Linked DNA regions of Homo sapiens. The protein of the gene in region 1 interacts with the protein of each later gene in a pairwise test. Each region holds a gene or a part of one and is shown in the gene's direction. Other genes may lie near its edges.

Evidence for each region. Proteins that work in one complex are often made in the same cells at the same time.
Region 2: the proteins of THSD7A (region 1) and HSD17B13 interact in binary tests that used the Homo sapiens proteins (3 or more experiments, as listed by UniProt).
Region 3: the proteins of THSD7A (region 1) and ARL13B interact in binary tests that used the Homo sapiens proteins (3 or more experiments, as listed by UniProt).
Region 4: the proteins of THSD7A (region 1) and SCN3B interact in binary tests that used the Homo sapiens proteins (3 or more experiments, as listed by UniProt).

Annotation. Positions count from the first base shown.
Region 1 is NC_000007.14:11,825,699-11,829,198, reverse strand, and holds part of THSD7A (thrombospondin type-1 domain-containing protein 7A precursor), read left to right. Parts: intron 1-3,500.
Region 2 is NC_000004.12:87,316,383-87,319,882, reverse strand, and holds part of HSD17B13 (17-beta-hydroxysteroid dehydrogenase 13 isoform A precursor), read left to right. Parts: intron 1-1,446; coding exon 1,447-1,554; intron 1,555-2,659; coding exon 2,660-2,791; intron 2,792-3,500. UniProt on the Homo sapiens protein: Plays a pivotal role in hepatic lipid metabolism. In vitro, it catalyzes the oxidation of a variety of lipid substrates, including 17beta-estradiol, retinol, retinal, and leukotriene B4.
Region 3 is NC_000003.12:94,032,155-94,035,654, forward strand, and holds part of ARL13B (ADP-ribosylation factor-like protein 13B), read left to right. Parts: intron 1-3,176; coding exon 3,177-3,282; exon of another isoform or gene 3,283-3,287; intron 3,288-3,500. UniProt on the Homo sapiens protein: Cilium-specific protein required to control the microtubule-based, ciliary axoneme structure. May act by maintaining the association between IFT subcomplexes A and B. Binds GTP but is not able to hydrolyze fit; the GTPase activity remains unclear.
Region 4 is NC_000011.10:123,644,625-123,648,124, reverse strand, and holds part of SCN3B (sodium channel regulatory subunit beta-3 precursor), read left to right. Parts: intron 1-2,374; coding exon 2,375-2,538; intron 2,539-3,500. UniProt on the Homo sapiens protein: Regulatory subunit of multiple voltage-gated sodium (Nav) channels directly mediating the depolarization of excitable membranes.

The DNA of each region.
Region 1 (3,500 bases):
ATTTATGTATAACTTTTGACTTCCCCAAAACTTAACTACTAATAGCCAACTATTGATCAGAAGCCTTACAGATAACATGAACAGTCAATTAATACATATTTTATATATGTATTATATACTATATTGTTACAATAAAGTAAGCTAGAGACAAGGAAATGACATTTGGAAAATCACGAGGAAGAGACAATATATTTACTATTCATTAAATGGAACTGGATCATCATAAAGGTCTTTATCTTCATCGTCTTCACATTGAATAGGCTGAGGAGGAAGAGGAAGATAGATAAGGGGTTGGTTTTGTTGTTTGAGCAGTGGCAGAGGTGGAAGAAAATGCATGTAAGTTGAACTGCCCAAATCAAATCATGTTGTTCAAGAGCCAACTGTACACATGTGTGTATACATATAATATATACATGAATAATACTTATTACTTATACATTATATGTAATGTTAAATATCTATCTATCTATCTATCTATGTGCTTTATTAAGTCAACTCACAACAAAGAGTTTTTGAGGAGCTAAAATATGTAACCACTGTGGTAAAAGCTGAATGGGATACTGCCATCCCTGCCATTGAGAAGCTCACAATTAACTTTTTTAAAAAAATTCTTATTCAACTGATTACAGGCTTTAGGAGATACTCACAATTAAACAACACTATAAGTACACAATTACAACATGGCATACCATACACATGAACAGAACATTATAAGAACAAAGAAGTTATTTGGCTGATAAAGGAGGTGTGAAGGGTCGCAAAGATAATTTAATATATGATCTGGGTCTTGAAGGATGAGGTGGATTTTGACTGAGGAAGGAGTAGAAGGCCATTCTAAGCAGAGAGAAGGAAAAAAATAAAAGTGAAAAGGCACAGCAGCTTTCCTAGATCTTGAAAGTCCCAGTAGTACACAGCACCTCAAGCCCAGGATGTGGGATAGCAATGAAAAGATTTCATGCCAATCCAGTGAGTTAGGACCAGATTATCAATAAACTTTCAAACAATGGTAAGATATTGGACTTTAACTTATAAGTAGGTGGTAGCCACTGTAAACTTTGAGCAGAAGAGTGATATTTTGTTTGTCTAGAATGAAGAGAGATGAGTTTAGAAGCTGGAAGGCCAGTGACGTGAGTCGTTGACTGAGAGGCAAAGGGAAACAGAACTCCGACAATAGAAGTTATAGTGAAGAGTGAGTAGAAGAGGGCTTGAGGTCACACTGAAGCAATGTTAGCTTAGATTTAGGGTGCAGAAGACACAGTGCCTTCCAGGGAAAGTAGGAAAATGCCATCAAGGTTTTCATCATGCCTGTAGTCAGTAAAGGAGGTACAGGGTATGAAAAAAGGAAGAACAGATTGCTTAGTGTTGTGAAGAAGAATATCAATTTAATTCAGATATACTGAGCTTGAGGTAGCAATGACATATTTAGACCAATATATCTCATGGGAAAATTAGTGAATGGGTGACTCAGTTTAGGAGAAGGAGTTAGGCTGAAGATGTAAGCATGGAACTCAATAAATGTATATTTCAAGCCATGGGAGTGGGAGGGATCATTAAAGCAAAGAAAATATTGAAAAGAAGAGCCAGGATATTTCACAGAGAATATTGGGATATAAAGGGCCACAGTGGGAGAAGACCTAGAGAAACAGTCTAAGAAAGTATGGCCAGAAAAGGTACAAGGCAAATGACAAGATACACTAGATGAAGACGGTATTTTATAAAGGAGATTGTGGCAAAAAGTATTTTAAAAGTTTAGAAAGGCTAGGAAAGGAATTCTAAAATATTTTAGAAAATATCAAGTATGAGGACTTGGTAAGATAATTCACAGTGTTTTGGGAAACGACATTTTAGGTATAGAGGTAGAGATATAAACTTGATTGAATAAAAAACAACATGGTAGAAAAGATACAGTATCAATAAAGTTGAATAACTAAGTGGTATGTAAGTCTCTCTACTACAATGTTGTTGTTTTATGAGGAGGAAAAGCCCAGAATTTCAGATATTAAAAATTATTTATTAAAATATAAAAGTCTGTTGGGCATGGTGGCTCATACCTGTAATCCCACAGCTTTTTAGAGGTCAAGGTGGAAGGATTGCTTGAACCTAGGAGTTCAAGTTTACAGTCAACCATGACTACACCATTGTACTCCAGCCTGGGCGACAGAGCAAGATCCTGTCTCTAAAAATTAATTAAATAAATAAAATATAAAAGTTAAAATTTTCAGCACTTTTGTATCACAGTCATTTCAAAGTTAACTTATCTTTGTGTGAATAATTGGGAAGCATTTCATACACACAAGAGGCATAGCATTTATATTACTGAAAGATGAATAACTAATGTTACTAATAAGTGTTAATGGCATTTGCATTTTTTTTTTTTTTTTTTTTTGAGACAGAGGCTCACTCTTTTTGCCCAGGCTGGAGTACAGTGGCATGATCTTGGCTCACTGCAATCATTGCCTCCTGGATTCAAGCGATTCTCCTGCATCAGCCTCCTGAGTAGCTAGGGTTACAGGTGCCCGCCACCATACCCGGCTAATTTTTGTATTTTAAGCACAGACTGGGTTTCACCATGTTGGGCAGGCTGGTCTCAAACTCCTGACCTCAGGTGATCCACCCACCTTGGCCTCCCAAAGTTCTGGGATTACAGGGACATTTGCACTTTTTATTATTCTAGCATATGAGATTGTTTCTATAATAATTATTGTTAGTTATATTCACTTGGCAATTCCAAATTAAGAGTGTCAATGAATTGAGCAAAACGCGACTGACTTAGCATTAATCAGACAAAAAATGTTGAATACATAAACTTTTATCAACTTCTGTCATAGATATATTTTCAAAAATATCTTAATGAAGTAATTGAATTTATTTTTATAATGATGAAATTACACTGAATCCAAGAAACATGTACATAATAGCCATTATTTAGAATTGAGGTGATAGAGTATTTACAGGTATGCATTTTCTCTCAAGGAGAATACTCACATTAAACACTTTTGAACTGGATTCATCTAATGCAGGACATTACTATTACTGACAGTCAGTGTGTCCTTTACATAGTAATTGCATTAAAATTATGCCTTTGTTCTTCAACTTTAATAAAAACAATGTTATCTTTTTTTACTTTTGTGTACTTATGCTAATAGTACTTATTACTCTGCATATAAAATATTCTCCAATGTATATGCAAATATATCTATTTTAATTCTACCAATCTTTAAGTAACAAAGGAGAGAGGGATATCATTCCAGGTAGTCATAAAATGAGGTGGCATTATCCCAATACAAGTGTTTTAAACTTCAATTGTTCTTACAATTTACTTTTATTCAGAATGTCACACTGTTTTCTCACTTCAAGAATGAGAAGGATGGAATAGGGTAGACAGAGCATGAGCGTCAGCGTTAATCAATCTGGGGCATCATGGATGGAAAATACTCTATTCATGTTTCCTAAAAAGTTATTTTATCTCCCTGAATCTTTTTCTTTCATCTCCAATATGG
Region 2 (3,500 bases), on another chromosome or scaffold:
TTTCCAGAATGTGAGTCAAGAAACATTAGAGCAATTTTATCTTAGGAAAGAGGTCTTTGAATTTAGGCTGAAAGTAAATTGCTCTGTCTCCATGTCCTATGGTTATGGGCAAGTTTGGTACATAAATGAGAAATCCATCCAGTGGCCTTGCCCATCTCACTCCCAAACACCTGAAGAATGTAATGTTATATCTCCTAGAGTAGCAGCATGGTCTCCCTATGAAAGTCCTTCTTCTTTAAGGAGACTTCTTTCCCTTCCCTCCTAGGAGGATGAGTCAGAATCATCAAGAAAAATATGATGGGCAGAGGCATACAGTTTACCATTACCACTAGTTTAGAATTACTACTTAGCACTTTACTGCCTATTACATAGTTGGTGCTCAACAAATGTATGATAAATTAATGGTTGAGTTTTTCTTTCTTCTCCATATTCATCTTCCATGACACCACGAAGAGCAATGTTTTTCAAGAATGTTCTTCAAGGTTTGAAAGTAGCCTGCTTTAGAGAAACTGCCTACTGTACAGCCTCCAACCAAGAGGAAAAGCTGAAAAAAGCATGAAGGGATTTTGTTTTGTTTTGTTTGTTTTGGTTTTAATATGAGCATTCCCTGGCAGAAAAGCCAGGGGTAATCTCATTGCAACTAGGCAATCACTCTCAAGAAATTTTCTAACAAATAAGGAGGCCAATTTTTATTTTATTTTGAGACGAAGTCCCACTCTGTCACCCAGGTTGGAGTGCAATGGAATGATTTCAGCTCACTGCAACCTCCGCCTCCCGGGTTCAAGTGATTCTCCTGTCTAAACTTCCCGAGTAGCTGGGATTACAGGCTCCCACCACCACGCCCAGCTAATTTTTTGTATTTTTAGTAGAGATGGGGTTTCACCATTTTGGCCAGACTGGTCTCAAACTCCTGACCTCAAGTGATCCACCCTCCTCGGCCTCCTAAAGTGCTGGGATTACAGGCGTGAGCCACCACACCTGACCCAGGAGGCCAATTTTTAAAAGGTTAACTAATCTTCATGTCCAAAATGAATGTTAATTGTTCATTTTGGACATGAATGTTAATTTTTTTTTTTTTTTTTTTTGAGACAGAGTCTCACTCTGTTGCCCAGGCTGGAGTCCAGTGGCACTATCTCCACTCACTGCAACTTCCTCCTCCCAGGTTCAAGCAATTATCCTGCCTCAGCCTCCCAAGTAGCTGGGATTACAGGCCCACACCATCAGGCCTGGCTAATTTTTGTATTTTTAGTAGAGACGGGGTTTCACCATGTTGGCCAGGCTGGTCTTGAACTCCTGACCTCGTGATCCGCCCTCCTCGGCCAACCAAAGTGCTGGGATTACAGGCGTGAGCCACCGCGCCTAGCCGAATGTTAATTGTCTAAAAATTTTTCTTCTCCAATGTCTTCTCCTCCACTTTTTTCGGAATTTGTTTCTTCCTAATTACAGCGCGGTGTGGAGGAAACTGCAGCTGAGTGCCGAAAACTAGGCGTCACTGCGCATGCGTATGTGGTAGACTGCAGCAACAGAGAAGAGATCTATCGCTCTCTAAATCAGGTGAGACTGCAGGTTCACAAATTTCTTCAGATTATTTTGTTTCCTAGGACGCTGACGTGGAAAATGAGAAAGGTCTTTATGACTGCCTGATTTAAATTGGATTTTAGCTGCTAACTGAAGTAGTTATGTCACCAAGGAAGGATATATACTTTTTTTCTTGTATGTAATCCACTCAGCTCTGCCCATTATTATTGTTCATATTATTAATCAATTTCATTCTGATCAGAAGTGTGAGCAGTGGCACAGAGTGACTGACAAAAGATTTATCATCAGGGAATATGGATCACTTCCTAGTTTTGTTTTAGTCCTATTAACTTTGCAGTAATTCCAGCTTCTCTTTAATTATTTCCCTTGTGAGATTTTATTTTGGTGTTAATGTAGTCTTCTGTAGAAAATGTAATATTAATAATTATTATCACAATTATTTTAAAAGAGTAAATACCAAATAATCACAATGAACTAAGCACTCTAACAAACTTTACATTTTTTAATTCAATCCCTACAATAACTCTGTAAACTTCATTTTACAGATAAGCAAATTATGACTCAGAGAGGTTAAGCCAGACCCAGGTCATGTAGTTATTAGGTTATGAAACCAGGATTTCTCAACCAGCACTTTAGACCAGGTGCGGTGGTTCACACATGTAATCCCAGCACTTTGTGAGGCCAAGGTGGAAGGATCACATGAGACCAAGAGTTCAAGACCAGCCCAGGCAACATAGTGAGACCCTATCTCTAAAAAAAAAAAAAAAAAAAAAAAAAAAAGTTTAAAGAAAAACACATTTTTAAAAAATGAACACTTTAAAAATATTTGGTCAGAATTTATATAGGAATTTATCAACATAAATGTTAATTTCACTTTACTGATAAACTTGCAAAACATGATGTGCTGGGTACTGAAATTTAGATGTTAAAAGAACAGTTTATCCCACCTTTATGACAGTGTTCCCTTGGCCTCCACGATTTGAGCTCAACAGTCTGTCTTGCCTGAACTCTGAGAGACCTCATACAATAGAAGAAAGACTCTCATCTTTGGATTATATTGGTCCCAAAACTTTGAGTTTGAATAATACACCCAGTGAAAGTGTTCTTTCAATTTCAAAAGGTGAAGAAAGAAGTGGGTGATGTAACAATCGTGGTGAATAATGCTGGGACAGTATATCCAGCCGATCTTCTCAGCACCAAGGATGAAGAGATTACCAAGACATTTGAGGTCAACATCCTAGGACATTTTTGGGTGAGTGTGAGTCAGAAACATTTCTGATTTGTGCACCTTCTCTTAAGATACATGAAACTTATAACGGAGTTCACATACTTCTGGACAGGAAACTGGCCAGATCTTTGCCTTAATCAAGAATCATTAAATTTGTTTGAGTAGAAGAGCCACAGAGTCTCTGACACAAGGACACAGAATTCAAGTGGACACAACACACCAGAATGTAAGCTACTTGGTCTGTCTTGTCCACCAGTATCTGACACAAAGCTTGGCATGTACCAGGAGCTCAACAAATGTTTGTGGAGGTTTGTTAAGGGTTGTCAGTGTACATCTTTTCAATGCTGTCACTTGTGACTTCATTTTTTTCCCTCCACACCATGATTTTGTAATGTGTCCTCATTTTGTGGAATTTTAGAATGGAAAGGACATCAGAAGTAATTACTTGGATGTATATAGGATCGAGGACACTTTTGGACGAGACTCTGAGGCAAGTGTTCTAGATCCATGGGGTGCTGGAACTGAGAAATGCAGCTATACAGACCTCATATAATTGGTTAGTTTTGTGGGAGATGGAAATATCAACTTCAACTGCCTTTGTATAGAAATTTTTATGATTAATCTTCCAGTGCCTCAATATTAGTGTAGAATCTAGGGCAGATCTGGATTCTAGAAGAAAGAAGAAAAAAAAGAGATGTGTCCCCCTTACCTTTACCAGCTCTTCACATATGTG
Region 3 (3,500 bases), on another chromosome or scaffold:
CGACCTCTTTATCCTATAGGAGACTAATAACCAAAACTTACAAGGAAATCAACAACAAAAAACAACCCCATTAAAAATGTGCAAAAGACATGAATAGTCATTTTTCAAAAGAAGACATACAGATGGCCAACAAGCATATGAAAAAAATGCTCAATATGCCTAATCAGAGAAATGCAGATTAAAACCACAATGAAATACCATCTCACACCAGTCAGAATTTTTAGCTGTTACTGAAAAGTTAAAACATAGCAGATGTCTGCGAGATTGTGTAGCAAAAGGAATGTTTATACACTCTTGGAATGTAAATTAGTACAATCACTATGGAAAACAGTATGGAGATTTCTTTTTTTTTTTTCTTTTGAGACGGAGTCTCGCTGTGTTGCCCAGGCTGAAGTGTAGTGGCGCGATCTCGGCTCACTGCAAGCTCTGCCTCCCGGGTTCATGCCCTTCTCCTGCCTCAGCCTCCCGAGTAGCTGGGACTACAGGCGCCTGCCACCACGCCCGGCTAGTTTTTTGTATTTTTAGTAGAGATGGGGTTTCACCGTGTTAGCCAGGATGGTCTCGATCTCCTGACCTTGTGATCCGCCCGCCTCGGCCTCCCAAAGTGCTGGGATTACAGGCGTAAGCCACCGTGCCCGGCCAGTATGGAGATTTCTTAAAGACCTAAAAAAAGAACTACCATTCAGTCTAGCAACCTCACTACTGGGTACCTATCCAAAGGAAAAGAAATCATTATACAAGAAAAGATATCTGAACTCAAGATGTTTATCACAGCATTATTCACAGTAGCAAAGGTAGGGAGTCAACCTAAATGTCCTTCAATGGATGATGAAAGAAAATGTTTGTGTGTGTGTTTTGTATATACATACATAAAATGGAATGCTATTCAACTATTTAAAAAAGCATGTTTTTTCCAGCAACGTGGATGGAGCTGGAGGTCATTTTTTAAAGTGAAATAATTCAGAAACAGTCAAATCTAGCGTGTTCTCACAAGTGGAAGTTAAATAATGTGTACACATTGACATGGAGTGTGGATTAATAGACATTGGAGACTTGGACAGGTGGGAGGGTGGAAGGGGAGTTAGAGATGAGAAATTAATACCTACAATGCACATTATTAAGCTTATGGTTACACTGAAAGCCCAGACCTCACCACTATGCAATATATCACCACTATGCAATACATTTACATCACAAAACTGCACTCATAATCCTTAAATTTATAGGATTTTTTTTTTTTAAATCAACCTGATCACCTTCGGAGGTTGCTACGCCATTAATTCATTATTTTGAAAATCAGGAAATAAAGGCAAAGGATCAAACATTTATCTTGACTTTGTGAATTTTAAGAGGCACCAAGTAGTTGGTGAAAGCTTATTTTTAGCAAGAATCCTGCTAGTAAATGCAGAAGGAATATGGAACTATAAAGTTACTGTTTCATAAACTTTGGTAAAATAATAGAATTAAGTAAAGGTCATCAATGGCTGCTAAAATCATTAAGTGAAAGATTAATGAGGAACTTTATTTTGGATGGATCAGGCTAAATGTAAATCCATTAGTTAATTTTATACCACCAAAATAGGACATTATATAAAAGTGATATTATATGCCTCCCTAAATACAAGCACCACCTACGAAGTATGCTTGCCAAAAAGATTTCATCTGAAACTCATCCAGCTTCTTACCACCAGATACGGGAAATATAGGATAGGTATGTTAAATAAGTTTATAAGGAAGATATTAGCCAAATCCCAAACATGGGAATTCTAAAGAAAAATTACAAATGTCATGGGAGGAAAAGAGTCATGGGGGTGGTAGTGGGGAGGGCAGGTATAATATAGATTCAAAAAGAGTTAAGTGATAAGTAACGTATATTGGACCTGAATTTAAACATAACACTTGTAAAATGATATTGGAGAATATTGAGTAAATTGAGTAATATTGAAGACTTACTGTTAATTTTGTTAGGTGTGATAGTGGTATCATGGTAATGATTTTTTAATATCTGGGTGAAGTAATGTGATTCAGGCAGCAAAATAGAAGGTATGTAGATTTTAATGGTAACTTGGGAAATACAAAAAAAAAGAAGGTATATAGATAAGCAAGAATGACACAGTTTTGATAATTTTTAAAGATAGGTGGGAAGGGTTCGTTAGATTTCTTAGTCTATGTACTTAATTTTTTTTTTAACCTAAAGAGTCTGTCAAACTTTGAGCAAGGCAGTATTTTATTAAACTTTTAAATCTATGTTATATAATTAAATAGTGGTAAATTGTGGTAAATCCTGTTTTTCTGTAGAATATATTGGTTTTCCATTTTGTTGGTGTCCAGTTTGTCTCTAATTGAGTACAATTTTTTTTTTTTTTTTAATTCCCAGTGCTTTGCCAAGTATATTAGAAGTGGCCTTGGGTCTTCAGTAAATTGCACATTTATGTGGACACATTCACACATTAGAATTGTAGATGAGCTCAAATATTAAAAGTTCAGAATGAATATTTGGGCATTTAAAACATTACAGTTTGTATTTTAAGAAGATAAGAATATAATTTATGGATGTGACCTGTGGAAATTAGTCCTCTTATTTTTCTGTTTTGTAGCTTTTTCTGTTTTGTTGGCATATTGATCTCTTGTTTATGTTTTCTTGACACTTTATTTGATTTTCCTTTTATAGGCCAGTACTTAAAAACTATTTTAGCAATAATAAGGGAAAAATGACAAAATTGATGCTACAACATTTTAAGATACTAGTGTGTTCTGTAATCAGTACATTTAAAACTTGGGAATCAAAGAATGTGGTCAGGCCAGGCATGGTGGATGATATCTGTAATCCCAGCACTTTGAGAGGCTGAGACTGACAGATCACTTGAGGTCAGGAGTTCAAGACCAGCCTGGCCAACATGGCGAAACCCAGTCTCTACTGAAAATACAAAAAATTAGCCTCGCGTGGTGGCACACAACTGTAGTCCCAGCTACTCTGGAGGCTGAGGCAGGAGAATCACTTGAACCTGGGAGGCGGAGGTTGCAGTGAGCTGAGATTGCACCACTGTACTCCAGCCTGGGAAACAGAGCAAGACTCAGTCTCAAAAAAAAAAAAAAAAAAGAATGTGGTCAAAATATCTTTAAGTTTCCATCCAATTATATATATGCTGTATAAAAGTACTTTAATTATCTTTCAGGTTGGCAAATAAACAAGATAAAGAAGGAGCTTTAGGAGAAGCTGATGTCATTGAATGTCTATCTCTGGAAAAATTGGTCAATGAGCACAAGTGCCTGTGTCAGATAGTAAGGTTTTTTTTTTTTTTTTAATTTTAATTTTTTGTCCTTTCAAATAGGTTCAGTATAACTTGGTTTTTATAAAAGTGATAGCAATTAAAAGGCAATGTTTTCAAAGAATTTTTTGTAACCTATGAAATCACATTCCCATTTTTCTGTTGATATAACTTAATACCATAATATTTGTTGTCTATTTCATTGTTATTTCCATGAACTATCTTTCCATG
Region 4 (3,500 bases), on another chromosome or scaffold:
GGTTCCATACTACACGGAGTTCTTGCTGCATACGCTCTACCCCTCTGCCCACTCACAAACTTTTGCGCAAACCACATTTCCTTTTTGTTTAATCAGATCTATAATCAATACTTCAGACTCATCATATGCTGAAGATGTTTCTGATCAGTTCTCCCTAGATGTGAGTCCTCTCTCCATTAACGTGGCTCACCATCTGCAGAAGCAATAGGTCCTCTTGAAGACTGTCAGATAAGACTCACCCAGCTTGCTGGAGAGTTGAAAACCCAATTACATTTATTTTACCTTGATGTTTACAACTTTAAGTTAATTCTAGTGCCACTAGTTTTTAAACTCCATGTTTTAAAATAAATACATTGCCTTCTAAGTCAATCAAACACAGTTTTTGGACTCAAAATTAATTTATGGCAGTGTCTTATTAAGCTCTAAATAAAACCTTCCTCTGCTTTTAGGAAAGAACGCTCTGCCAGGAGATGAACAGGCTGACCATTAACAGTGGACTAGTTTTTAAATGTAGTGTGTATTATTTCTTTTTTTTTCTGGGGGTTCTGTTTTTATTATTAATTCATGAAAAAGTAGCATCAGAAGGGATCTTCAAAGTCCTAATATAAGAATCTGCGGTGACCATCATGTTGTTTTTATTTTTTCAAGAGATAGGGTCTTACTCTGTCAACCAGTCTGGAGTGCAGTGGTGCCATCATAGCTCATTGCAGCCTCAAACTCCTGGGCTCAAGCAATCCTCTTACCTCCTGAGTGGTTGGGACTACAGTTGTGTGTTACCATGTTTGGCTAATTTTTATTTTATTTTATTTTTGTAGACTCAGGGGTCTCACTATGTTGCCCAGGCTTGTCTCAGACCCCTAACATCAAGCAATCCTCTCAACTTAGCCTCCCAAAGTGCTGGGATTGCAGGTGTGAGCCACAGCACCTGGCCTCGTCTTACTTTCAAATATCCCAAACAATGCTGTGTACACTCTCTTAGCATTTAGTTATTTGCATTTGTGAACAGCTCCAAAATCATAAAATTCTTTCTTTATTGCATTAAACTTATTTTTTTCTTATAACTTTTAGGGTTGGGCAGAATCAAATTTCTCTTCCATCTGCCAGCCTTCAAATATTTGAAGACAGATATGTTCTGTGTCCAAGCTAAGCAACTCGAATTCTCCCATTTTTTCCTCACCAGACTTTATCTCCAGATCCTTCACCATCTCCCTCACCTCTGGGCATGCACTCTTTGAACAACTTCCTTTTTTAAAATGTGACATCCTGAACTGATCATAATAGTCCAGATTTGTTCCAAAAACAGTGCCGAGAAACTACGCCTCCTTCCTCCTGCGTACTGTACATCTGTTAATGCAGCTCACATTTGCGCATGTTTTGCTGGCAGCCTTGTCCCGCTCAAGTTATTCTGAATTATCAAGCTGATATACTTGCCTCCTTTTAAAAAACAGACTTCAAGTTTCTAGAGGGCAGAAACACTAAGTCTTAGACCTCTGTGTGGCATGCAAGGTGTCCCACAATCTGACCCCGCTCCAGATTTTAACTTGCCTTGCTATACTCCTCTGCATAGACCATTGTTCCAGCTTAGTGGTCCGCTCGCCATTTTCTTCACTGCTGCTCCAACCTCCACCATGTGTCAGAATTACCTACAGTTTTCACACAACACAGATACAATTACATCTCTCCACGACTTTAAAACATTGGATACCTCACACTGGAAGGGACACACAGAGGTCTTCACAGCATGGGCCCTGCCTACCTTTCTAGCCTCATGTTTCACCATCCTTCTCTTCCTTTCTCCCCAGGCCAACTGGGAGTAACTAACTGCCTGTCTTCTAAGAACAGAATATATCATGAGTGTGTTACTTGCTGTGGTCTGGTTTAATCCTAGTTAGGAATATGTGTTCCCTATTGGATTATAAATGCATTTAGGGCATGGTTAGTGTTTTATTCATCTTTGCATCTCTAGTCTAGCATCAGACCTGGCAGAGAGTGGATTTTAATGAGTGGTGGTGGAATGAAGGGGGATGGATGGTTGCTGGGTAGGTAGATGCCCTGTCTCCCATTTGGGCTATAAGACTTAGAGAGCAGGGCTCAAGTATAATGTACGGTGCTGCATCTCCACTGCTTCCAGGGGAAGGATTTCAGTCAATGTCTAGATCATCCAGGTCTCCTCCAATGTGTACACGTTCTGAGCCTGTACATTCAGGGAGCGCAGGTGAAGGTGTAGACATGTGCACGTGGCTTTTTTCAGGTTGGCCTCATGACTCTTCCTTCTCTGTCTCTCTTCCCTCCCTCCTTCTTCTCCAATGTTTCTCTCCTGTGCCCCTCCCCCACCACCTGCTGTTCCTTCCCTGTCCATCTGTCCTCTCTGCAGTCAGTGTCTGCTTCCCTGTGTGTGTGGAAGTGCCCTCGGAGACGGAGGCCGTGCAGGGCAACCCCATGAAGCTGCGCTGCATCTCCTGCATGAAGAGAGAGGAGGTGGAGGCCACCACGGTGGTGGAATGGTTCTACAGGCCCGAGGGCGGTAAAGATTTCCTTGTATGTTAGACTGCTGACTCTGGCCTTTCTTCTGCTGGCCTCTGCTGTTCCCAGCCTGGCTCCTGACAGTCCGGGGGATGCCAAGCTAGCAAACACTGGCTCCTTCTCTTCCAAACACTGACAGATCCTCAGCAGATAACTGACAGCCTTAGTGAAGCCCCAGCTTCTGTGAGAGAAAGGGCACTGGGCCAGCTGCAAGCACCCTTGATTATGGGCTGGAGGAAGCAGAGGAAAGAGATATGCTATATTTAAAGCCTACTATGTGATAGGCGCCCTACCACACATTTTGCAGGTGTTTTCATCTAATCTTCTGTGCCATCCTATTATATGCATTAAATTCATAAAGAAATTGGAATAACACAAAGCATCATTATGTGAAATAACAAAGGTTAGCTCCTTTAACTCCTGCAGTCCCATTGAAATAGGAATGACAGGGATGACAAAGAGTGATCCAAGGGTGACATTCACCCGGGACACCCAGCACAGCCACATCAGTGAGTCAATTATGTCAAACAGTTCTCTCGTGGATACTTGCTGTGCCGAGTCTCCTAAGTGGCTGAACCCCCAGACTTATCCATGATTTGGAAACGAAGAGATTCGCTCCTGGCAGAGCTGGGAGTCTTCCAGATTCTGCTCCTGCACCATAGCCAGTGTCAGTTCTGGGTGGTTGGTGCCAGTGGCAAAGTGGTTGTATATGTGTGTGTATATATATATATGTATGTGTGTGTGTATATATGTGTGTGTGTATATATATATATATATATATATATATATATATATATATATTCTCTCTCTCTCTCTCTCTCTCTCTCTCTCTCTCAACGGGGTCTCCCTCTGTCACCCAGCTGGAGTGCAGTGGTGTGATCTCGCTTACTGTAACCTCCACCTCCCAGATTCAAGCGATTCTCCCACCTCAGCCTCCCCAGTAGCTGGGACTATAGGCACCACCACCATGCCCAGCT